Homo sapiens: one gene and its partners. The protein of the gene in region 3 purifies or fractionates together with the protein of the main gene of each other region. This does not show direct contact. Each region holds a gene or a part of one and is shown on either strand. Other genes may lie near its edges.

Region 1 (3,500 bases), on a different chromosome or scaffold from region 3:
TGGTCAGAAGTCCACACATGTGGTGGAAGGTTCTTAGCCATCTTTTTTGAGGAAGTGTCAATGTCAGTTTCTATTGTCTTATCCCTGCATTTGATAGAGGATTAGAATGGAGGCAGATAAAGATTCAGTGAGCATCCTTACACCTCCAAACTTGCTTCATTTATCTTTTCCTCATACCTGCTTTAGTATGGATTTTAAGCTTCGTTGGGAAGCGTGTGGAGCTTGAGAAAGGGGAATTCTTCCTCCCCGGATTTTAAGTTTTGTTGGAAAATTCATGAACCTTGAGAAAGGAAAATTCTTCCTGTCTGCCTCAATACACTGTGCTGCATTGGGAGTGAATGGACGCCAAGTCCGGGATCTGGCCCTGACCTCTAGTGGGCTGCTCAGCCCTCCCACTTCGAATTGTCCCTCTCCTACCCCCTTGCTCCTGGCCTGGCCTTTTTCTCCACCCTCTGGCCTTTCCACCCCAACCCAGGCTGTTTTCAACTCAGTCTTTGATAACAAAACAGAAGCAGTGGGGGGTGGGAGCGGATTAGGAGCCAGGCCTCCCCCTGGTGGAGTGGAACTCAGGGAAAATGACAGGAAGTGTGCCCTCCTGCTGCTTCTGACACTCTGCACCCCCGTCTGGCATCAGGGTCCCAGGCTGCAGCGACCGAGAGCTAAGAGGCCTCAGATGCCCACTCCGTGACTCTCATGTCTTTCCTTTTTCCCCTCAATCTACCATCATTCTGACAACATCTACAGAGTTAAACTTGGGGCTGCGCCAGGGCGATGTTCCAGCTCTCATCTCTGACCTCTCCTCAAGAGTTTTTTCCTGGCATCCTTTCTCTGCCTGGACCTGTCCCCACTCTGCTCTCAGCTCCTCCCAGGCAATCTTTTCTAATTGATGCAGAATCCTGTAGACATTTATAAATAGCCTTCCTTCCTCCCCACCCTCCCCCCAACACCTTCAGCCACTTATTTAAGAGTGTTTTTCTTTTTTAGACATAAGCTGTTGAATTGGGCCCTTCTCTCAGACCCTCACCCCAGCTTGGGCCAGGTGGCAGGGTGGGAGCACTACTCCTGGGGCACCCGTTCCTCTGGGGCCAACTTGGATGTGAGCTTCCTGAGGGACATGTGCCTTTTTCCAGTCATGCCAACTTTCCTTTTTTTTTTTTTTTTTTTTTTAAGACAGGCTATCACTCTGTCACCCAGACTGGAGTGCTGGTTCACTTCAGCCTCCAACTCCCAGGCTCAAGGGATCCTCCCACCTTGGCCTCCCAAATTGCTGGGATTAGAGGCATGAGCCACTGCCCTGGGCCTCAACAGTTGTTAGATTTGAGTCTTTGGATATAGACAGACCTGGCTCTTTCTTGAGTGGAATTCTTCCCCTGCCTCCTGTGGCCTGTTTCCCCCTCCTAAAGAGTCTACCTCCTCAGAGCTCTGAGGGGTTGAGGAATTGCTGGGGCACTTGCCTCTCACCTCATCCCTGCCTCCAGGCCTCGCAAAGTGAGGTAATGTGGTGGAGGGGAGCTGGGGGCGGTAGGTAACAGCTGGGGGATTAGACTCATTCTGTGTTTGTGCCCTGTTCACAGCTCCTCTGACAACTCCTTAGTGACAGGGGCAACAGCTTTGGTACACACAGGGTGGTGAATGAGGCCCCGCCCTCCCAGGGGTCCTCCCCAGACCCAGCCCAGAGGGAGGCTGTGCTGGAGCCTGAGCTGGCCAGGAGAGTGTGTACTTGGTTCCTGTTTCAGTTGCTTCTGGGCCCTCAGGGCACTGAGCCCTTCCTTGCTCCTGTCAAGAGGGATTAGGGTCTCTGCTGGCAAGGGGAGGAGGGCGGATACCGGCAGGGGAGAAGAGGCTGGGAAGGTGCTACTGGTAGAGGGAGGGTGTGGAGTGCACGAGACTGTCCACACTCTGGTCTGCAGCCGCCACTCTGTGGCACTGAGTCATGTCTTTGGCTTCTTGGGGCTTTGGTGGTATGTGTGTATTAGGGGGAGACCCAAAGAAAGGGCTCCATCTTCCCCCACCAAAAATGCAGAGAAACATTTCTGTTGATTGGACATTGTTTGAGAGGAGACACATAGGGTAGAGTTGTCTGGGGAGTGGCCATCGTCCTGGTTGGCCTAAGGGACCATTGTAGTTGGAAGTAAGGGCTAAGATGAAAGATCATTTCCTTCTTTGTGATCGGCAATTCCAACGTAACCCCATTTACACTGATTTAGGGAGAGGCAGCAATGTGTATTGGTCACTTCATTAAGTCTTCCCACTTGTTTTTGGAAATTCAGGTAATCTTATCCCAGTTTACTGTTGAAGAAACCAAGGCTTAAGGAGGTGAATGTCATTTGCCTGAGGTTAGCGGCTGTTAAGTAATAGGAGTTAGGATTTGAACCCAGGTCTGTTGGATTCTGAGGTACAGGTTGAGGGACCAGCATCAAGATCCTAACAGTTCAGACTCTAAGGGTTAACCTTCACTCCTCCTCTAGGTTCCTAACAGCTATAGACCAAGGAGGCAGAGGAATGTACTCAAGAAAGAATCTGTCAGGGAGGCCAAATATTCCCCCCACTTCCACCCCTCTGAGTTCTCTGGGAAGGCTCAGGAGGGGTCGGGGGAGCTTTGTCCAGGAGCAGGAGAGTGGATCAGGAGGTTTATGATGGCTTTCACTGTGAGGGCTGGGCGGTCCCCTCTGAAGAGGGCACGCTGTACAAGCCTCACCTATACACTGTACAAGTACCTAGTCGTCCAGGACATCAGCATTCTGTCCGAAGTGCTCTGTGGTTGGCAGGTAGAGAGTGGGTTTTAAAGACCCATGTTGGGGTAGTCCGTCCTGGCTTTTAGCGTGAGAAAGCACCTCCACCCTATCCAGAGACAGAAATGCAGCAGCTACCCTCTTCTGAGCTGAGGCAAAGGGAGGGGCTGGCCGGGTATTTCCCAAGGATCAGGGTCTGGATCGGCTGTCTTTTGGCTCTGGAAATGGAGAACACTGTGTTTCCTACACCGAGGCCAGTTGGATAGAATGGGTCAAAGGCAGCTGTGGGGTCCCCCACCCAGTTCTGCAATGCTGGGTGGAGAGGGTGGGCTGGGGGCTGCTCTGCCTGGGTGGAGTCTAAACTAGTTAATGTGGATCAAGCCACACCCCTCCTGGCTTCCCGGGGAGAGAGGCAGAGGAGGAACCCAGGCTGAGCAGAGAATACACCATGAACAGAAGTCAAACAGTGTGGCCTTGGGGATGGGCTTAGGTGGTCTCCCGTGCATGCTGCTTTCCCCCTCATCCATCCCCAGTTATCTTTGGAGAGGAGGGAAGGATGGACTTGAGGTGGCGGGGCTGAGATCCAGGGCTGAGAAAGGCACCAAGCCCCTCTAGTCCTACTCTCAGAAGGGGTTAGTAGCACCCCGCTCTAAGCACCTGAGCTAAGCAGCGGCCGTCTGAGGCTGGGAGTGGGGATGCGGGAGCAGCCTCTGCTGGAGACACGCACAGGCTTCTGTGCTGGTGCAGGTGGGCATAATTCCTTTCCTG
Region 2 (3,500 bases), on a different chromosome or scaffold from region 3:
TTCATGCTGCTTTGACTTCTGGTTATTTTTGTGTAGCAGCTTTCATTGATGGGGTCCATTCTTGGCCTTGCCTAATCATTTTTCTTGGATGATATAGAGTGTTACAAAAGAATTATTATCTTAATGAATCAGGAATGTTCTCTCTATTTGTTTTCTGACATAGGTAAAGTGGGAAGGATTAGAACCTTCAAGGTGAAATGTCAAACTAGAAATTTCCTTTTATAATCTGCTTGTGTTCCCCTTGGTTTTAGGAGCTGGGAATCCCAAGTGCAAAATTGCAATTGTTTTGGGAAGAACTCAAAATACTTCTCTCTCCAGGTAATTAAACAATTCTGATTGAGAAACCTGTGTAGGAATGAGCCAGTCTTCCTCCTATCTAGGTAATTTACTTAAAATTCACTGTTTGGACTCACAAATCATAATGTAAGATATGAGAGTAAATGTCATATATTTGTATTTCACAAGTATTTTCTAACAGGTGTTTTTGGAAAACATTATAGGGAGTATTGCTGAACATTCTTCGCTGTGGAATTTTCAGTATTAGAAAGTGTTGCTAAATTATCAAAGCTGTTTGGATTAAATTATCAGACAAATTTTTTCAGACCTGTGTAATGAAGTGATTAGATGTTTAGATCAAAGGCAATAATCTTGAAATGTTTAATTATATATATAAGTTCCCAGTTACCATTGTTGAGCAGTGAGAAGCTTCAATCAAACAACTCATTTATTTTCAAATCATTGTTTCTGTTCCAGATCACAGCCTGCATCAGACTATGTTGGTGTACGTCTTTTACACAGTTCCCATTCCAGTCATCACTGCTTACATGACTACATGAAAACATCAAAAAGACAATTGTGATTCTGCTTATTATCTGTTTTATTTTTCTTCTTAGCAAACTTTTTCTAATACAATTTTTCTTTTGACTAGACACAAACAGCACAGCATGATTCTTGTTCCCATGAACACACCTGGAGTAAAAATAATAAGGCCTTTGTCAGTTTTTGGCTACACAGGTAGGTATCCAATAAATATGACCATGCATTAGCAAGCAGGAAGGCTAGAATATGCAGTAACATTGAAGGCAATAGCATTTTAATGCATAAGATAGATTCTTAGATATTCCTTTGTCTGTGACAACTGTCTTAATATAAATGCTGGTGGAGTTCAGAGTAGAGCCAATAAAAAGAAATAGTATAGCATTTATGTAATTTATAATTATATAAATTATAGAATTTATAGAATATAAATTCTGCCTTTTTGGGAAAGGGCAGATTGTATTTAAGGAAGAGCAACACTACCAGTCTTTTCTCTGTCATTCATAAAAATGGATTAATGCACAGATAATCCACAATAAAATTATTTTTATCTCCAATTTTAGCCCTCTTAATCAATCAACTTACAAGAACTGTTAAAAAGCAATGAGTTTTTGACTTATTTGAGTGCAAAATTTTCCTTCCTCTGCCCTTGGGTGGGACTTCTAAGAAGCAAAGATCCATTTGTTTCCTGCCACCTACTGTGGCACGTGTTCATTGTGTACAATAAATATTTGCTAAGATCACCCTCTCAGCAAGTATTTGCTTAGCCACCATGCCCAGCTAATTTTTGTATTTTTAGTAGAGACGGGCTTTCACCATGTTGGCCAGGCTGGTCTCGAACTCCTGACCTCAGGTAATCCACCCTCCTCGGCCTCCCAAAGTGCTGGGATTATAGGTATGAGCCACCGGGCCCAGCCCCTGGCTTTCTTTTTATCATTGAATATGACTAATGAATATGTTCAAGTGGCAGATATAAGACTTGCAGTTTTATAGAATCACTTATCAGTTAAGATGCAGCTGTAGAGTATACCCACAGGGTAAGCATAGGTGGCAAGATGGGATGAGCAAGCTTGCTGGAGAAAATTGCATGTAGGAAATTGTTGGGTTGCAGCGAAACGGCCGCAAAGATACCAAAAATGCGTTTATAATATAGTTGAGCTGCAAATAATTTCCATTGCAGAGGCTACATTTGATTATTCAGTATGAAAACTTTACTAGCACCTCTCCAACTCCCTGTGTCCAGGGCCAAAAGAAACAGTGTGGAGAAGGCTGATTATTGTCTCCTCTGACAGGAAAAGGGTGTAGAGTTAGCATGAGATTATCTCTAAAACTTGGCAGGGAGAAGGGGTGATGCAAAGATAAAATGTGAACGTGTTCCTGGCCTCAGTGTTTCAAATGCCAGTATTTTCAAGAGACGAACACACAGTGGAACAAGTCTAGACTGGGAGTAAACCTACCTGAAGGTCTAGTTTCTGTATCATCACTAATGCCAAGCCTGCTCTTTCCCCTCAAGCAGGCCCCTGTCATCTTTAGGCGTTGGTTTCCACAATGATAAAATAAGAAACATGGATTACATTACTCATTTTTAATTTTTGAAACATTGAAACTTTTTTCCATGCAAATTGTTTGGAACCCCATATGTAAAATATTTCAAAGAAGCAGCAATAATAAAACAAATAAAATACTCTGGCTGGATCTATGGAGCCTGGTCTTCCTTTTTCCTAGCTCTCTGAAATTGTACTTCAGAGAATGAATTAGAAAACATCTGGATCAAAGGGTTTCTCTTCTTGAACAGTTGATGAGTTTTCTGGGCTGCTGGGTCCTGGGGTTCAGGGCTGAGGCTTACCTCAGAATGTTCATGCCATATGGATCTTTGAAATCCTATTTTCTTCAAGTAATTATATTTCAGCAGATTAAGAATATGTGACTCTTTTTTAGTCAACTCCTTTTGCTCTAAATTTTATTTTCTATTTTATAGATAATTTTCATGGAGGACATTTTGAGATCCATTTTAATCAAGTGCGAGTTCCTGCCACAAATCTAATACTAGGTGAGTTGAATTTGGAAATGATTCTTCAGTATTGTACATTAATATTTCAGCTCTAAATCTGGAAAAGATAAGTCTTTCCAGATTTAGACCTGAAGTCTACCTTGATTTAGATATTAGGTTCGTGCAAAAGTTATTGCGGTTTTTGAACTGCAATTACTTTTGCACCAAGGTAATTGCAGTTTTTGGCAAAAGCCGCAATTACTTTTGCACCAACCTAATACTTTCCCTTCTTGTTTACTCCATTTGTCAAGGGAAAGTTTTCTGTTTGGCGGATTTTCTTACATGGAATGGTGAGGTTTTATTTAAGTGTTGGATGTGGTTTTCTATATCACATCAATTGAAAAGATAATATGAAAATTATATAATTCAGAGCAATACACTTTCTCCTAGAACATGATCTGTAGGCCTCTATTTGTTTTAAGAAAACCTCAGTACTTTATGAATTCAAGTATTAGATATAAGTTAGAAGCATAAATAACTTTGAACACTGTATGCCATCCTCTTGCTTATTAGAATACTATATCCCTTTCAAAGAACATCTAGAATACCACCTCTTCCAGGAATGTTTTTGTGTTCATCCCATCCATTCACCAGGCCCCTGATACCTGCCAGGCCCTGAGGTTATAATGATGAA
Region 3 (4,091 bases):
TTGCTTCAGATTTGGTTAGAAATTATTGAATCTGGAGTGTAAAAATCTTGTCTGGGCCTTTTAGGCAGCTTGATTTTAAAACTAGCCCTTCTGCCCCAAGACTTATCAACCGCCCCCCCACCCTGTCCCAAAAGAAAAGCTGAAGTAAGTTCAGTGTTAAAATAATGGTGCTGTCAGGCAGGCAGTCTGCATGTGAGCAGCAGAAAATTAGAAGAATAGAACCATCCATTCTCGTTTCCCCCCGCGACATGCACGCACACATACGTGCACACACACACACACACCACACACACACACACAGACAACACCAGTCAGTGAAGGGGGAAAAGGGTGATACCTTTTTAAAAAATGAAAGGCAGTAAGCCATTATTAGCAAGAGCTATATTGAGCATGCTTGCCAGACAAGCAGCAAAGCTGAGCTCCAGTTCCGCCCAGACATGTGCCTTGCCATTTTCATTTTAATCAGCCTGCTCAGGATGGCTGCTGATTCATTTTGCAGGATGTCCCCCTGGGAGCCAAGGTGGAAGCCTGAGGCGAGCTGCTATTGCATCAATGCAGCACATCAGAGCGAGAGCGCGGAGGCAGAGGGAGGAGAGAAAGCCTTCAGCACCGCATCCCGATTTCAATATGGCTAGTTAGAAGGTCCTGCATGAAACCGAGTCTATTGCAGAAAACATAATGAAAGGAAAGGAAAAGAAAAAAGTCACATTGTCATTTCATTATCCAACTATTCTCTCCCCCAACCCCTTCTTGCCACCAACAGACACACACACGTACACATTTTACAGTGACCATGAAAGATTTCAAGCCACTCTGTGGAAGTGTGTGTGTGTGTGTGTGTGTGTGTGTGTGTGTGTACTATTTACCTGGTAACTAGCTGGGGTGGTATACCTGATTTAGCTGGAGACTTTGATTTGTAGGACTGACAACCTTATTATGCAGTGAGTTTATTATTGATATTATTCTGCTCTCGGTTGCCATGGCCACCTTGTGAGAGACATTCAATTTTCTCTCTTCCATCATCATTATCTATGAGGCCATCTGTTGTGGAAAATGAATTCAGCCTCATTTGCATGACTGATAAGCAATTTTTTTTTTTATCTATTTAACAGAAGGTCATATGCCGGGGATTTGGAGCTTGTGAAAAAAAAATGTGGAAAAAAAAAAAAGCCTAGGAGAGGATGAGTGGGAGCGTGTGCATGGGGGTGTGTGGAAGTCAAACAGATCCCTGAGGCCTGCGAGCCTATCGCGCTGCATTTGTCATTCCTGCCCGGGCGACATTTTTTTTTTCCCTAAGCTACTGCACACTAAACAGTGAGAGAGCTTTTCCCTGCAGTCTTGTTGAAGCACCCCGGGTTTTTTGCTCATTGTTGGTGGGTGCATTTTAATTTTTTCATTCCCTGGACTATGGGTTATGATATCCATACTCACTGAAGACAAAAAGCCACCTTTTCTGCGTCTTGGTGGCATGCATGTGTCTCATCATCCTTTCAAACTTGTGGTGGAACAGGGTTTTCTTCCCTGTCTGTGTATTTTGAGCCAGCACAGTTACCAAAATTGAACTTGTCTTTCGCTTGTGAGCGGTTGTGGTCATTGTGAGGTACGTGATGTTCGTTAGGTTAATTTTTCGGGGAACTTAGTGAGCAGGATGTGTTTTACCGTAGCTCAAGGGCTGAGGCTGCTATTCCATTGTCTGCTCCTTTTTAAAGTTATTTTTACAGCATGGCTGGTAGCTGAAATGTTCCTGGACTGGAGGCTTTGTAATCCACAAAAAAATCTGTCTTTAAACTAAAATGGGTATTAGGTTGCATGACTTAACTGTGATGTTGTTTATTAAGAAAAAAAGAAACAAAAACAAAACGGGGTGCATGTATGGTGTTTGGAGGATAAGAGGATACTGAAACAAAAACTTCCCAGAGACTTTACTGGATTACTTTACATTACAAATGAAGCACATCATTTTATGCAAAGGCAATTAAAATGTTAGCTATTTTGGATGAATTTACCTGATGGTAAGAAGAAAGTTGATTTATATTGTTTAAGTGGAGAAACTCAAATAAAGATTTTTAAATTTAACTTAAATGTTTGAAGTTCATAATAATGAAAGAAAATGTTATTTATAACAGAAATATGTCTTTTTGTAACACCTAAATTAATAAACTAAAAGATTAAACTCTACACTTTAGTTTTAAGATAGATCTGAATAAAGCAAAAATATATATGTAAATATTTATATGAAAGTTAGCTATATAAAATATAGAGAACAGATTTTGAATTTAGTATTAACCATGACAATTTCTTGTACCATCAAAGCTATATAAGCTAAATAATTTCTAAGTTACTTAGAGTAAAACTATTTTATATAAGAGCCTTTTTGTTCAAATGTTTATATTTTCTACTAAACAAAATTAACGTCATAGACCAAAGCATCCCAAAACCACCCTTACTGGCATATGAGGGTCTTTCTAATTGTTCATCTTCATTTAGTGTCATGTAGCTTTAAAAATAATAAAGTCATGTCTCCCATACAGATAAAAATGTAATTATTTTTAAAAGAAAAGAGTTTTATAAAATATTCCTTTTCAAAAAAAAAAACAGCATTGCATTCCTATAAGTTTTCACCTCTCAAGAACTTTGAATCCAAAGTGTTGATTGTAAGTTATAAATGCTACTAAGAGAAACATTCCAGAAAAAAAGGAAGTTTGTTTTTTCTGATTGACCTAAAAGAACATGTATGATTCTATCACCTCAAATGCAGTAAGTTAATTGCTTAAAAGTCTCCTTAAAGTTATACTTGAGTGATAAATTTTCTTTATTAACTAACATAGACCACTACTGATGTGTGTGTGTGATGGTACTTTACTTGATTGCACTTTGAAAACTCTTACCATACTATCATACACTTTTCATAAACAATAACAGTTGTTATATAATCCTTCTGCTTTTAATCAGCCATATTTCTTTATATTTTAGCTTGATTTTCAGAGAAATAAGTTTATTTTAAATATTAATTGTGCATTTAAAGAATTTAAAACAATAAAATTCTGATAGATTATGAAGATTATTTAAAGTGACATCAGCTTTCTCAGAGGACTATAAGAATCAGTAATATGAGATCTGGATCTATATTATAATATGAAGGATTATGTTGTTGTCTTTTGATCTGTACATATAGTCTTCAGATTCGTGAATCAAAATTATCAACATCTAAAAAAACCTATGAGATAGCACAGTTGATTTTTCTCTCCTCCCCACCCCCACCCACAAAAAGTTAATTACCAATCTTGGTTGGATTCTTCCTTGCCTCCCTGACATTTGACTGCTGCTAATTCACTGATTAATCTCATTAATGTGATTATAGTAGGATTTAGAGTTGGCTGCCATTGTTCTGTAGACAGTGCTATTCAGGCTGAGCACTTGCCACCTCATTCAGTTTTGCTGTGATTTTTCAAAGGCTGGTGGAGTGAGCTATTGTGAGCAGGCTTCTCTGCCTTCCCTTTCAGCACCAGGAGCTGTCCGCAGCTGATAGCGATTGCATTCAACAGTGACTGACTTCCTCCTAGTTTATTGGCAATGTGAAAATGGCTCACTTTCATCACCTTAATGATTGTGCTAGTTGAGGTAGAAGTAGGAGAAGCCTTCATGGTCACATTTGGATGTTTTGAAGATGGTGGCAGCAAAGATATCTATACTTGAACATTTTTATTTAGTAAAGACTTTCCATCTGCCATTATACACATATTTTACTCTATTTCCAAATATTCAAACATATCAATATGTTAAAAATTACTTGTATATATGTATAGTTGTGGGTTGGAAAATTGTAAACATTATTACTTTTCAACTGGAAAATTTTATCCAAATACATGTAATTATTAATAAAATTCATCTTTGAAAAGATGCACCAGGACTATCTGGTGTCACAGTAAGGTAGAAAGTATGCATGACACACAAATTTCAACTTCTCTTGAGTTAAACTTGCATCCAACAGCAGAACTTATGCCAATTTCACAAATTTGTGTTAGAAGCTGAGATCAAGGTAAAGGCCCAATGATTTGTGACCACATATGAGTGGTGTACAAAAATTATTA
Region 4 (3,500 bases), on a different chromosome or scaffold from region 3:
GGCCGGTCAGCCAGGGAAGGGCCTCTCAGAAGATTCTAGAAACTCCCGAGTTGCACAGGCAGCCCTGAGCCCTTTCTTTAGTGACAGGCGGCTCAGATTTCATGTCACACAGCCCATATCGTCAACACCACCATTCCCCTGATTGTTTTGTTCTTACCACACTTGTTTTTCAACAGAGAATCCAGGCCAGAGCCTGAACAGACTATTTCAGGAAGTACCGAAACGAAGAAATGGGTCTGAAGGTATGTTGCAGGCAGGCGTTTTCTTTGCAGTCAGTCACCTAGGGAAGCAGCATGTCCTTAGCTGTGTATTTGGGTTAAAACTGTGCAGTGTGATTCTGGCCTGGAACCTGATGGAAAAACAGCTAGTAAGTATAAAACAAGGCACGGGTTCAAGCACACCCAGCCCCTTCCTCCCGAGCTGCCTGCCCTCTCCCAAGCACAGGCGGGGGTGAGAAGAGGCATTGCTAAGCTAAGCCCCCCGAGTCTGAATCCCAGCCCACTTCAGATCCTAATTACCCGGTCCCCCGTTTTTCTCAGACGCAGTTGAAAAAATAACAGCGGTTGCTCTGAGAAAAGTCAGGTGACCCGTCAAATTAAATACTGCTGCTTCCTCGTATTTTTAACTCGGAAACACACTCAAGGTCCTATGGAACGGACGCATCCCACATCGTCCCGGTGGCATACTTGTTTTTAAATGGTGGTATACTTGTTTTGAATGCAGTGGTTCCTATTTAGGAAGGTAGTAAGAAATTAAACTATCCGGGTGGCTTCCCGAAAGAGCTGGGGCCAGCCCCTGGGCCATAGTAGCCTCATTTCGTCGGCACGTGTGCCTGCACAAAACATCACCATGTGGCCGAAAGAATCCATCCTCCCCACTTAGGAATTTCTGCAGGCTCCTTTCCTCGTATGTAAATTTTAAAAAGATATTATGTGATAATAGGTGCAAACAATTTTTTAAGTTAAGCCTTTCTTCACCCTGTGCCTCTGAATGATTGATAGACAATCAGCCTCAAACCCTCTGCCCTCCTTTTCCGTTTATCCTGTGTGGGACCCCAGCATCCAATAAACATCTAACCCCGAGGAGAGTCAGTCCCAAGCCACAGCAGTTGCTTCTAAGTGACTCATGAGAAACATTGCCTTTTAATCACTCGCCTTTTATATATATGGATTAAATGATCGGTTCTCCCGGGTACTAACCCACGGGTGGTGTCCGGCTTTGGCAGAGTAACATTGACCGTAAGGTCAAATGAGCAGGAAATCCCTCCTGCCCGGTGTCGCTGTGAAGTTGCACTCACAGCAAACACAGGCCACTGGGAGGCCACATCTGCCTCCTTGTGTCACCAGCCCCCACCCGGGGCTATATATCAGAATGACGTCTTCGCGCAGCGCTGATTTTTGTCCGGGGTTTGGGTTTGATGTCATTGGCGCAACTTCTCCCCACAGGTAACATCACCACCCGGATCCGAGCCTCGGAGACTGGCTCTGATGAAGCCATCAAGTCCATCCTAGAGCAAGCCAAGAGGGAGCTCCAAGTGCAGAAAACTGGTACAGCTTCCATTTCTTCATCCACTGTCTTCAAACTTAATTAAGAGAATTGTCATGAGTGCTCTGGTCAGCAGTAATTAACTATTTTTTTTTTAAACAATAATGAATGCCTGTTCTCAAGCATTTAGGCACGTAGAGAGAAGCAGGTCTGTGTGATCTGTATTTGCCTAATAGTTACCTTTTTTTTTGAGATGCAGTCTCTCTCTGTTGCCTGTGCTGGAGTGCAGTGGCACGATCTCAGCTCACTGCAACCTCTGCCTCCCGGGTTTAAGCGATTCTCCTGCCTCAGTCTCCCGAGTAGCTGGGACTATAGACATGTGCCACCATGCCCATGATATTTGTGTTTTTAGTAGAGACGGGGTTTTACCATGTCGGCCAGGCTGGTCTCGAACTCCTGACCTCCAGTGATCCTCCCACCTCGGCCTCCCACGGTGCTGGGATTACAGGTGTGAGCCACCGCGCCTGGCCCCTAGTTGTAATTATTCACAGAAATTACGCTCCTTAACTTTGACAGAACCACTTGCATTTCAGAATATAGCACAGGAAAATGAATACCAAGTATAAAAATTATCAGAGGTCAGGCGCGGTGGCTCACACCTGCAATCCTGGCATTTTGGGAAGCTGATGGGGGAGGATGACTTGAGTTCAGGAGTTTAAGACCAGCCTATGCAACACAGTGAGAGACCTTGTCTCTTAAAACACTAGCCAGGCATGGTGGCATGCACCTGTGGTCCCAGCTACTTGGGAGGCTGAGCTGGGAGGATTGCTTGAGCCAGGGAGGTGGAGGGTGGGTACAGTGAGCCGTGATCGTGCCACTGCGCTCCAGCCTGGACAACAGCGAGATCCTGTCGCTAAAAAAAAAAAAAAAAAAAAAAAAAAAAATTCTCGGGGAAAGGAGCCCCAGGAGGGCAGGTCGGGGAGCACTTTCACTGACACCCCCTTTATTACCCTCTACATCTGTGTGTATACCAAAGGCCACCAGGTCATCAAGCTGTAGTGTCAGGCCCTGGTCCTTGGTTGAGACAAGATGCCTGAATGTTTCACTGACAGGGGCCATGCTGGGGAAATACACAGTGTGGTTCTCCCAAATAACCCACACTTTGCAGTAGGTCAAGTTAGGATGAGAAGCATGTCCCCAGCTGAAGGGGGCCGCCCTGCCACACTCTCACCCCTGTTTCTCCATGCAGCAGAGCCGGCCCAGCCTTCCTCCGCATCCGGCAGCGGGAACTCTGATGACGCCATCCGCTCCATCCTGCAGCAAGCCCGCCGGGAGATGGAGGCCCAGCAGGCTGCCCTCGACCCTGCCTTAAAGCAGGCACCACTGTCCCAGAGTGACATCACCATCCTCACCCCCAAGCTTCTGTCCACCTCGCCCATGCCCACCGTGTCCAGCTACCCACCTCTCGCCATCTCCCTGAAGAAGCCCTCCGCAGCTCCTGAGGCCGGTGCCTCTGCTCTGCCGAACCCCCCGGCCCTCAAAAAGGAGGCCCAGGACGCCCCCGGGCTGGACCCCCAGGGAGCAGCCGATTGTGCACAAGGGGTCCTGAGACAGGTGAAAAATGAGGTGGGCCGCAGCGGTGCCTGGAAGGACCACTGGTGGAGCGCGGTGCAGCCGGAGAGAAGAAATGCCGCCTCCTCCGAGGAGGCCAAGGCCGAAGAAACGGGCGGCGGGAAAGAGAAGGGCAGCGGTGGCAGCGGAGGTGGCAGCCAGCCTCGGGCCGAGCGCAGTCAGCTCCAGGGACCCTCGTCGTCAGAGTACTGGAAGGAGTGGCCCAGCGCTGAGTCCCCATACTCCCAGAGCTCAGAGCTGAGTCTGACCGGGGCCAGCCGCAGCGAGACACCACAGAACAGCCCCCTGCCATCCTCCCCGATCGTGCCCATGTCCAAGCCCACCAAGCCCTCGGTCCCCCCGCTGACCCCCGAGCAGTACGAGGTCTACATGTACCAGGAGGT
Region 5 (3,500 bases), about 130 Mb from region 3:
CCAGCACTTTGGGAGGCCAAGATGGCTGGATCACCTGAGGTCAGGAGTTCAAGACCAGCTTGGCCAACATGGTGAAACCTCGTCCCTACTGAAAATATAAAAATTAGCCAGGCATGGTGGTACACACCTGTAATTTCAACTATTCAGGAGGCTGAGGCAGGAGAATTGCATGAATCCCCGGGAAGTGGAGGTTTGCAGTAAGCCGAGATCATGCTACTGCTCTTCAGCCTAGGTGACAGAGTGAGACTCCGTCTCAAAACACACACACACACACACACACACACACACACACACAGACACACACAATACAAAATTAATTCACACAATATGAAATTAATTTACAGAAAAGCAGGAGTGGCTATATTAATGTCACATAGAGTAAAATTCTGAGGAAAGAAAATTGCTAGAGACACAGAGGGATATTACATACTGATAAGATAATCGGCTGACCAGGTAATGATCCATTTCTCTGCAGTGTCTTTTAAAATATAGGCAAGGACATTCCAAATTTATTTTATGAAGCCAATATTTTCATGCTATCAACACCAGACAGAGTGTACAAATATAGAAAATGACAGATCAATATTCCTCATGAATATAGATGTAAAAATGCATTAATAAAATATTAGCAAATCAGATCCAGCAGTATATACCTTGACCAAGTAGAATTTTTTCTTGCTGTGCAAAGCTGGTTCAACATTTGAAAACCAAAGTAATCCACCATATTAACTGGCCTTATTAATTTCCTAGGGTTGCCATAACAAAGTACTGTGAACTGGGTGGCATAAAACAGTACAAATTATTCTCATGGTTCTGGGGGCTAGAAGTCCAGAATAAAGGTCTGATAGGATCATGTTCTCTGTGAAAGCAGTAGAGGAGAATCCTTCCTTGTCTCTTTGGTTTCTTGTGATTGCCAGCGATCTTTGGTGTTCCTGGCTTGCACCTGCACCACTCCAGTCCCTGCCTCCATCTTCAAATGGCATTCTTCTCTGTGTCTCTCTGCCTCTCCCATCCTCCTTTCTCTCTCTCTCTCCTTCTCTCCCCTTCCTTTTCTCTCTCTCTCTCTACTTCTCTGTCTCCCTCCCTCCTTGTATGGACACCAGTCATTGGATTTACAGCTCACCTTAATCTAGTATGACTTCTTAACCAAATTACCTTTTTTGTTTGTTTTTTCTTGTGACGGAGTCTCGCTCTGTCCCCCAGGCTGCAGTACAATGGTGCGATCTTAGCTCACTGCAACCTCCGCCTCCTGGGTTCAAGCAATTCTCCTGCCTCAGCCTCCTGAGTAGCTGGGATTATAGGCGCCCACCACCACACCCCGCTAATTTTTTGTATTTTTAGTAGAGACAGGGTTTCACCATGTTGGCCAGGCTGGTCTCGAACTCCTGACCTCAAGTGATCCACCTGCCTCGGCCTCCCAAAGTGCTGGGATTACAGGTGTGAGCCACTGCGGTCAGACTACATTACATTCTAATATAGTTATAGTCACAGGTACCAAGGATCTTCAACATGTCTTTGGGGGGAAAACCATTCAACCCACAACAAAAGCTAAAGAAGAAAAATCACATGATTGTATCAATCAATATAGAAAATTTGACAAAATTAAACACCTTTTCATGATAAACAGTGTTCAAAAACAGAAAAAGAAGGGTTCTTCCTTGATTTGATAAAGTTGTTCTGCCCTTGGAAAGGCTCCCCCAGCTGTCTTATGCTTTGTTCTTTCCTTCAAACCAGCCTGCACATAGTCTAGGCTATATCTTCATTAGTTCACAAATCTCCCCCAATTCCCTTTGCCACAGCCTCCACTGTTATGGGGAGCACCTTTAGGTTTGAACTTCTTCACACTCTTGCAAATGGACTCACTTCCTTCAGGAAGAAATTAGAAGGTATCTGTTTTACAGCCCACTTCTTCCGGCAAAATGTTTGAACCAGGGCCTTAGAGATGGGGGAGGCCCTGGCTTGACACGTGGCAAGCTTCTCTCTGAGTGACAGCCCTGCTTTAGGAGGTAGCACTTAGTGGAGGTAAAGGAGGGGAGTAAGCAGCCTGGTGTCCTCTTGGCTTGCCTCTCCTAGATGAAACCATTACCTCAAATAAAAAAGTTCTTATGGCCAGGTACGGCAGCTCATGCCTATAATCCCAACACTTTGGGAGGCCATGGCAGGCAAATTGCTTGAGCCCAGGAGTTCAAGACCAACCTGGGCAACATAGCAAGACCTCATCTCTACAAAAAATACAAAAGTGAGCCCAGCATGATGGCGCACACCTGTAGTCCCAGCTACTTGGGAGGCCGAAGTGGGAGAATCATTTGAGCCTAGGAGGCAGGGGTTGCAGTGACCTGAGATTGTACCACTGCACTTCAGCCTGGGTGACAGAGCCAGACACTGTCTCAAAAAAAAAATAAAATTCTTGTTAAAATAATGGCATTTACACTGCTCGAACACAAATCATTTACCTTTTTAAACACTGAAATACATGTATTTTTATTTTTTATGGTTCCAGAGGAGAAGAAAGCTATGCTGCAGGAAATAGCTAATCAGAAAGGAGTATCCTGTCGTGCTCAAGGCTGGAAAGTCCACCTCTGTGCTGCCCAGTTACTACAGCTGGTAGGTGGAGTTCTAGCAGTTGTTCATCATGCTGAAGAGAGGAGAAGACACTGCAGATAGCTGAGTTCATAGAACTTTTTAAAAGTAACTCTGAAGCATTCCCAGCTAACATGGGTTATGATAGAATTTTTATGTGTGCTATGTAATATCACACTGTGTCAGTTACATGTGATTAAAATTGAAATATATCTAAGTTCTGGTATCCAGATCCAAAATATATGGAACAACTGTGGTGTAAGACCTAAATTTAAGATTCAGTGTTATGTGATATTGTGACATCTGAAATAGGGGGAGCCTCAAACGGCCTAACCGAGAGTCCCTCCTCCCAACTCTGCTCCCTCAGATGAAGTCTCCTAGGCAAACAACCCTTCATACCACAGGGACCAGGCACACAATTCCTGCTCCTTGCTGAGTAGTAGGCTCCAGTTCCCTGCCAGCTTCCAGTATTCCAATTTCCAATGTTACTCAGATAAGCCAGTCACACACATCATCATTCAGAGACCGGGGCATACCTCTCCCTCTCTCCTGTTCTTTTTTTTTTTTTTTTTTTTTTTGAGACAAGGTCTTGCTCTGTTACCCAGGTTGGAGTGCAGTGGCACGACCATGGCTTACTACAGCCATGATCAACCTGCTGGGCTTAAGTTAATCCTCTCACCTCAGCACCCCCAAACAGCTGGGACTGCAGGTGTGAGCCACTGCACACAGCTGATTTTTTAAAATTTTTTGTAGAGGCCAGGCACGGTGGCTCACATCTGTAATCCCAGCACTTTGGGAGGCCGAGGTGGACAGATCACGAGGTCAGGAGTTCGAGACCATGGCCAACATGGTGAAACCCCTGTCTCTACTAAAAATACAAAAATAAGCTGGGCGTGGTGGCAGGCGCCTGTAATGCCAGC
Region 6 (3,500 bases), on a different chromosome or scaffold from region 3:
TGGATTTTCAGTTTTTTATACCACTTGAAACCCTTCAGTCAGATTGCTTTTCTCCTAACAACTAACTGGTATCACTTGCACTAAGAGTAGAAGTTTTTATTTTAAGGAGGAAAGGTGATGTTGAAGTTTGTACCATTTACTTGGGTCACAGACAGCCTGGCTCTAATGCCTCAAAGAAAAGCATAAAATAGAATGAAGGAGAGACACTGAATGAAGGCAGGGTGCTAAAAACAATTAATGTCCATGCAGAAACATCTAATGCTTTGCCTTAGAAAAGGGAGGTGATTCTTCTTTTCATCCTGTTTTTCTGTCATTCTCCTGACTCCTTGTTTTGAGGGTCCACAGTTCAGACTTTTACCACTCATTCTGAGGATCCACCGTTTCTGTGGTTTCCAAGGGAACACAGGCTCTGAGTTCTAAGCAGCTAAGCTTCCTGAACTTTTGGAGTGTAACCTGTTTATAAATAATTAAATAACAGCTTCAGGGCATTCATGTGCTCATTGTAAACTAGTCTAATCTGATCATAAAACAGAGTGCCTCTTAAGCAACTCTTTGTTAGCCTAATTGTATGCATACACTTAAAAATTATAATTGTGTCTATGCATAAATTCAGTTCTCTAATTCAACAAAACCCATACCGTTGCCCTAAGGATGCGAGGTATCACTCTGCTGGAAATTTAGCTCTACTCTACATTTAAAATACAAGTTTTCACATTAAATAATTTCTTATTCCCCAAAAGATTAATTTCTGTCTCTTTCTAGTCCCTCACTGAATTTAAATTCTAACTAGTTATTGCACTAGGGCAGAGGTTGAGATATCACTGATAGTTCACACTGGATTTGTTCAACCTGTTGTTTTGCGTCCATGAAAATAGTTTTTGGTGGTAATGTTGTGTAATGATGTGTAGAAATTTTATTAGAAATATTTCCCCCTTCTTTCCTTTATTCTTCAAGTATTTTAGTATGTATGACAAACAATATAAATTTTGTAGCTATGTTTTTTTATTTCAGTGTTTAGTGGCTAAATTATCAGTAAGTTATAATTTTATTAATAAGTTTCACTGTAAAATGGACCATACAGGTGATCGAGGAAACATCTCAACATCTTCTAAACCAGCCTCTACATCAGGAAAATCAGAGCTGTCCTCTAAACACAGCAGATCGCTTAAACCTGATGGACGTATGAGCCGGACTACTGCTGATCAGAAGAAGCCAAGGGGCACAGAAAGTTTATCTGCTAGTGAATCCCTCATCTTAAAATCTGATGCTGCAAAGTTGAGGTCAGATTCCCACAGTAGGTCATTATCCCCCAACCATAACACCTTGCAGACATTGAAATCTGATGGGAGGATGCCTTCTAGCTCCAGAGCTGAATCCCCAGGACCAGGTTCTCGGTTGTCATCTCCTAAGCCAAAGACTCTCCCAGCCAATAGGTCTAGCCCATCGGGTGCTAGTTCTCCACGCTCCTCCTCACCACATGATAAAAATCTACCTCAAAAAAGTACTGCTCCTGTTAAGACAAAGCTTGATCCTCCTCGGGAACGTTCTAAATCAGACTCTTACACACTTGATCCAGATACCCTCCGCAAGAAGAAAATGCCCCTCACAGAACCTTTGAGAGGACGGTCAACGTCACCAAAACCAAAATCAGTACCAAAGGATTCTACAGATTCCCCTGGATCTGAAAATAGAGCTCCCTCTCCCCATGTGGTACAGGAAAACCTCCACAGTGAGGTGGTCGAAGTCTGCACCTCAAGTACTTTAAAAACAAATAGTCTAACAGACAGCACCTGCGATGACAGCAGTGAATTTAAGAGTGTGGATGAAGGTTCAAATAAAGTTCATTTTAGCATTGGAAAAGCACCACTGAAAGATGAACAGGAAATGAGAGCATCTCCCAAAATAAGTCGAAAATGTGCTAATAGACACACCAGGCCCAAAAAAGAAAAATCGAGTTTTCTTTTCAAAGGAGATGGATCCAAGCCTTTAGAGCCAGCCAAGCAAGCCATGTCTCCTTCTGTGGCCGAATGTGCCAGAGCTGTGTTTGCTTCCTTCCTCTGGCATGAAGGCATAGTACATGATGCAATGGCTTGTTCTTCTTTCCTAAAGTTTCATCCTGAACTTTCCAAAGAACATGCTCCTATAAGGAGTAGTTTAAATAGCCAACAACCTACAGAGGAAAAAGAAACCAAGTTAAAAAATAGACATTCATTAGAAATATCATCTGCACTGAATATGTTTAATATTGCACCCCATGGACCAGATATATCTAAGATGGGTAGCATCAACAAAAACAAGGTATTGTCTATGCTTAAGGAACCACCTCTGCATGAAAAATGTGAGGATGGGAAAACCGAGACCACTTTTGAAATGTCCATGCATAACACAATGAAGTCTAAGTCTCCTCTTCCCTTAACTTTACAACATTTAGTGGCTTTTTGGGAAGACATCTCTTTGGCTACTATCAAAGCTGCTTCCCAGAATATGATTTTTCCAAGTCCTGGTTCCTGTGCAGTTCTTAAAAAGAAAGAGTGTGAGAAAGAGAATAAGAAGTCCAAAAAGGAAAAAAAGAAAAAAGAAAAGGCAGAAGTTAGGCCCAGGGGTAATTTGTTTGGAGAGATGGCCCAGCTGGCAGTAGGAGGACCAGAGAAAGATACCATCTGTGAACTGTGTGGGGAGTCACATCCATACCCGGTGACCTATCACATGAGACAAGCTCACCCAGGTAAATGATACTGTTGAATGTACGTATAAGTGCTTTTTTCTTTAATGAACCAGATCACTTTATTTGAGCTGTTCTATGAATTTTGTCAAAGGATAGGGAATTTATAGTATCTTAGAATGTCATTTTTAAAGTACATTATCAGTACAGGGTTTTGTGAAAAACAGATAAATTCTAATATTATGATGGCCAGGTCATTTAGTGCTATTTCACTTTCATGTAGCATGTTTTAAAAAATATTATGTGTTACCCAAAGGGTGTGCCATTAATGTGTCTGTCTCACACAGCAGAAACAGTGGCATGCCCATACACACAGGGCATCTCCTTTGATTTTACTATTTTCCTGTTCAGAATTGCAAATTAAATTAGATTAGATTGATTTCTATAGGCTTTTTCCTACGGAAGTGATATTGTTTTATCAGAAGACTGCATTTTCAGTAAATGTAATGATTTCTGTAACATTGACTAATATTCCAAATTCACCTAATACAAATTTGGTTAATTTTTTTCTTTGTCTACATATTATACCTCAAATGTCTTATGAATATGTGATTTCTGAAAATATATCATTGTTATAGAACTTTTATACTTGTATTGTCTAATTTTATTGACATAATTAAGTATATCTAAATATACCTATATTCTATCTCTCTTTTAATATGCCTGATTAGAAACTAAGTATCTCTCATATTTGGGGCATCATTTAATTGATTGCTTTTTGATCAAGTAAGCTATTTTTCTGATATAGTTAATAGCCTGAAAAATAAGATATCTACTT
Region 7 (3,500 bases), on a different chromosome or scaffold from region 3:
TTCTGATGCACTTTAGATTTCCCCTTGAATTACACAAGGCATTCCATTTTAACCGAAATTTTTTCTGTATCATCAAATACTAAGGGAGGCCAGGCAAGGTGGCTCACGCCTGTAATCCCAGCACTTTAGGAGGCCGAGGCGGGTGGATCACTTGAGGTCAGGAGTTCGAGACCAACCTGGCCAACATGGTGAAACCCTGTCTCTACTTAAAAAAAAAAAATTAGCCAGACGTGGTGGTGGGCGCCTGTAATCCCAGCTACTCGTGAGGCTGAGGCAGAAGAATAGCTTGAACCCAGGGGCTGGAGGTTGCAGTGAGCCGAGATCATGCCACTGCACTCCAGCCTGGGCGACAGAGCAAGACCCTGTCTCTTAAAAAAAAAAAAAAAAAGGCTGGGCACATTGGCTTATTCTTGTAATCCTAGCACTCCAGGAGGCCGAAACAGGAGGAATGCTTGAGCTCAGGCATTCAAGACCAGCCTGGGCAACACAGTGAGACCTAGTTTCTACTAAAAATTTTAAAAATCAGCTGGGCGTGGTGGCACGTGCCTGTTGTCCCAGCTACTTGGAAGGCTGAGGTGGGAGGATCAATGGATTGAGCCCCAGAGGTTGAGACTGCAGTGAGCTGCTATCATGCCACTGCACTCCAGCCCAGGCAACAAAACAAGATACTGTCTCAAAAAAAAGTGGCTACTGTCTCAAAAAAAAGTGGCCTGGCACGATGGCTCAGGCCTGTAATCTCAACACGATGGGAGGCTGAAGCAAGCAGATCATCTGAGGTCAGGAGTTCAAGACCAGCCTGGCCAACATGGTGAAACCCCGTCTCTACTAAAAATACAACAACAAAAAAATCAGCCAGGCGTAGTGGCGCATGCCTGTAGTCCCAGCTACTCAGGAGGCTTAGCCATGACAATCACTCGAACTCAGGAGGTGGAGGTTGCAGTGAGACGAGATCATGCCATTGCACTCCAGCCTGGGTGACAGAGTGAGACTCTGTTTCAAAAAAAAAAAAAGTAATCCATCTTTATTCAGCACTGGTTAGACCTAGCTGAATTACCCCTTTGAGTTCCAAAGCACAAAAACAATGTGAGAATCCAGAGGATGGCCACAAAACATTTGCAAAAAGGACCTAAAGGGAAATGAATGTGGATCATCCTGTTAAAAGGTAAAGAACTTTAAAAACCTAACACATTCAACAAATATACATTAAATATACTTTATACCGTTTTCCATCTGGGTGTACGCTAAAAGTGAGTGAGGTTTTCGTTTCTCTGAATCTGTTCGGCTGTGGCTCTGTCTGAAGACAATGAGAAGGTTTGGGTGAGAGCAGGTGCAAACGTGGACAGAGCACTGGCCTGAGAGTCAGCATGTGGCCAGGCAGGGTCGCTCACGCCTGTAATCCCAGCACTTTGGGAGACCAAAGCAGGTGGATCACCTGAGGTCAAGAGTTTTGACACCAGCCTGGCCAACATGGAGAAACCCCGTCTCTATTAAAAATACGAAAATTATTAGCCGGGCATGGTGGCATGTGCCTGTAGTCCTTGCTACTCGGGAGGCTGAGGCAGGAGAATTGCTTGAGCCCAGGAGGCAGAGGTTGCAGTGAGCCGAGATCAGGCCACTGCACTCCAGCCTGGGCAACAAAGCGACACTCCATCTCCACACAAAAAAAATAAATAAATACAAAAATTAGCCGGGCATGGTGGTGCATGTCTATAATCCCAGCTACTTGGGAGGCTGAGGCAGGAGAATCACTTGAACCTGGGAGGTGGAGGTTGTGGTGAGCCAAGATTGCACCACTGCACTCCAGCCTGGGCAACCGAGCAAGACTCCATCTCAAAAAAAAAAATTAAACAAATAAAAATAAATAAATAAATAAATAAGAGTCAGCAGCCTGCTTTTCAATCGTGGCTTCTCTGAGCTCTCCAGGCCTCCGGCACCTTGTCTAGCACATTAGTGCAGTGAGTTTACACTCACCTGAGAACCCAATTGCTTCAAGACAACAATTACCCTCTCTGTGCATTGGTTTGCCCATTAAAAAAGAAAAGAAAAAAAAAGGTCCGGGCGCAGTGGCTCGCGCCTGTAATCCCAGCACTTTGGAAGGCCAAGGTGGGCGGATCACGAGCTCAGGAGTTCGAGACCAGCCTGGCCAACATGGTGAAACCCTGTCTCTACTAAAAATACAAAAATTAGCTGAGCGTGGTGGCGTGCACCTGTAATCCCAGCTACTCAGGAGGCTGAGGCAGGAGAATCATTTGAATCCGGAAGGCGGTGGTTGCAGTGAGGAGATCCTGCCACTGCACTCCAGTCTGGACGAAAGAGCAAGGCTCTGTCTCAAGGAAAAAAAAGAGTAAGTAGTAAAAGGTCCTCTCCTGTTGTACGGCCTCATTCCCTCCCCTGGGTCCATTGCCCTCAAGATTCTTTCTAGAGAGTACTCAACAAAGTCTTATAACGGGAAGACTGATTAAATGTAATTAATTTAAAGTGGAGAAATTGTAAACATACATGGTCTTTGGAAGCGCTATGGTCAAACTCATACACACAAGGTTACTACAGATTAAGTATCCCTTATCTGAAATGCTTGGGATCAGAAGTGTTTTGGATTTTTTCAAATTTTAGATTATTTGCAATATACTTACCAGCTGAGCATCCCACATCCAAAAATCTGAAATCTGAAATAGTGCAATGAGCATTTCCTTTGAGCATCATGCTGGCACTCAGGAAGTTTTAGATTTTGGAGCATCTGAGATTTCAGATTTGGGATGCTCAATCTATATAAAGATGTTGTCAATTCTATGTTCCAAAAAGACATAGGCATATCATACTCACTGTTCCTTCATTTCTACATAGTCTTCTTCATCATGCTTTGCCAGGTCAGTTTCACTAGCATCCTCAGTGTCTGAATAAAGTTAGGAAATAGGGGCTAGTTAAAATCATAATTCACGGAGTTGGCGTCACCTGACACAGAGTATGCACTCAATAAACTCCCGTAAAATCAATTTCTATTCAAGGCAGGCTTGCACAAAGCCATCAATGAAAAACATTACATACAGTTAGTAGGCCATCCCTATCTGCAAACACGAAACCTGTGGACACAAAAGGCCAATGCAAAGAATTTGAGTATCCTCAGGTTGTAGTATCCATGAAGTCCTGGAACCAGTCCCCCATAGATACCGAGGGACAGCCGTACTTCAGAAAAGAAAAGGCCATTTCCAACTTACAGTCAGATTTATGCAAAAAGCTTGCCTTTACCTGAAATGCAGCCACAGAATAGGGTGTCTCAGGCACAGGCAGTTATGGTGAAGGCTGCTACTTCTGCAGAAACAACAATGCTGGCAACTCAAGAAAGGAGATGCAGGCGTAAGACTGGACACTGCAGGCAGTCAAGCCTTACTCGCTGCTCCAGAAAAAAACTAGTATGTACATTCTCTTCTGATACATACCCAGTTGGAACCCTTCGCACATTTTACATCAGGATACACGGTTGTCCCTCAGTATCCGTGGGG

The links.
Region 1: the proteins of MYT1L (region 3) and SPRYD3 purify together in Homo sapiens (affinity purification with mass spectrometry, with the first as the bait; one large-scale study listed by BioGRID). This does not show direct contact.
Region 2: the proteins of MYT1L (region 3) and ACAD11 purify together in Homo sapiens (affinity purification with mass spectrometry, with the first as the bait; one large-scale study listed by BioGRID). This does not show direct contact.
Region 4: the proteins of MYT1L (region 3) and CUX1 purify together in Homo sapiens (affinity purification with mass spectrometry, with the first as the bait; one large-scale study listed by BioGRID). This does not show direct contact.
Region 5: the proteins of MYT1L (region 3) and SAP130 purify together in Homo sapiens (affinity purification with mass spectrometry, with the first as the bait; one large-scale study listed by BioGRID). This does not show direct contact.
Region 6: the proteins of MYT1L (region 3) and MYCBP2 purify together in Homo sapiens (affinity purification with mass spectrometry, with the first as the bait; one large-scale study listed by BioGRID). This does not show direct contact.
Region 7: the proteins of MYT1L (region 3) and SUDS3 purify together in Homo sapiens (affinity purification with mass spectrometry, with the first as the bait; one large-scale study listed by BioGRID). This does not show direct contact.

The regions. Positions count from the first base shown.
Region 1 is NC_000012.12:53,069,391-53,072,890, reverse strand, and holds part of SPRYD3 (SPRY domain-containing protein 3), read left to right. Parts: intron 1-3,500.
Region 2 is NC_000003.12:132,576,310-132,579,809, reverse strand, and holds part of ACAD11 (acyl-CoA dehydrogenase family member 11), read left to right. Parts: intron 1-251; coding exon 252-318; exon of another isoform or gene 319-928; coding exon 929-1,014; intron 1,015-2,794; coding exon 2,795-2,866; intron 2,867-3,500. UniProt on the Homo sapiens protein: Acyl-CoA dehydrogenase, that exhibits maximal activity towards saturated C22-CoA.
Region 3 is NC_000002.12:2,328,476-2,332,566, reverse strand, and holds the start of MYT1L (myelin transcription factor 1-like protein), read left to right. Parts: upstream 1-1,291; 5' UTR 1,292-1,600; intron 1,601-4,091. UniProt on the Homo sapiens protein: Transcription factor that plays a key role in neuronal differentiation by specifically repressing expression of non-neuronal genes during neuron differentiation.
Region 4 is NC_000007.14:102,198,626-102,202,125, forward strand, and holds part of CUX1 (Homeobox protein cut-like 1), read left to right. Parts: intron 1-176; coding exon 177-242; intron 243-1,445; coding exon 1,446-1,547; intron 1,548-2,734; coding exon 2,735-3,500. UniProt on the Homo sapiens protein: May be involved in intra-Golgi retrograde transport.
Region 5 is NC_000002.12:127,944,560-127,948,059, reverse strand, and holds part of SAP130 (histone deacetylase complex subunit SAP130), read left to right. Parts: intron 1-2,500; coding exon 2,501-2,604; intron 2,605-3,500. UniProt on the Homo sapiens protein: Acts as a transcriptional repressor. May function in the assembly and/or enzymatic activity of the mSin3A corepressor complex or in mediating interactions between the complex and other regulatory complexes.
Region 6 is NC_000013.11:77,096,595-77,100,094, reverse strand, and holds part of MYCBP2 (E3 ubiquitin-protein ligase MYCBP2), read left to right. Parts: intron 1-1,081; coding exon 1,082-2,725; intron 2,726-3,500. UniProt on the Homo sapiens protein: Atypical E3 ubiquitin-protein ligase which specifically mediates ubiquitination of threonine and serine residues on target proteins, instead of ubiquitinating lysine residues.
Region 7 is NC_000012.12:118,379,555-118,383,054, reverse strand, and holds part of SUDS3 (sin3 histone deacetylase corepressor complex component SDS3), read right to left. Parts: intron 2,894-3,500; coding exon 2,824-2,893; intron 2,086-2,823; exon of another isoform or gene 1,367-2,085; coding exon of another isoform or gene 1,221-1,366; intron 1,196-1,220; exon of another isoform or gene 1-1,195.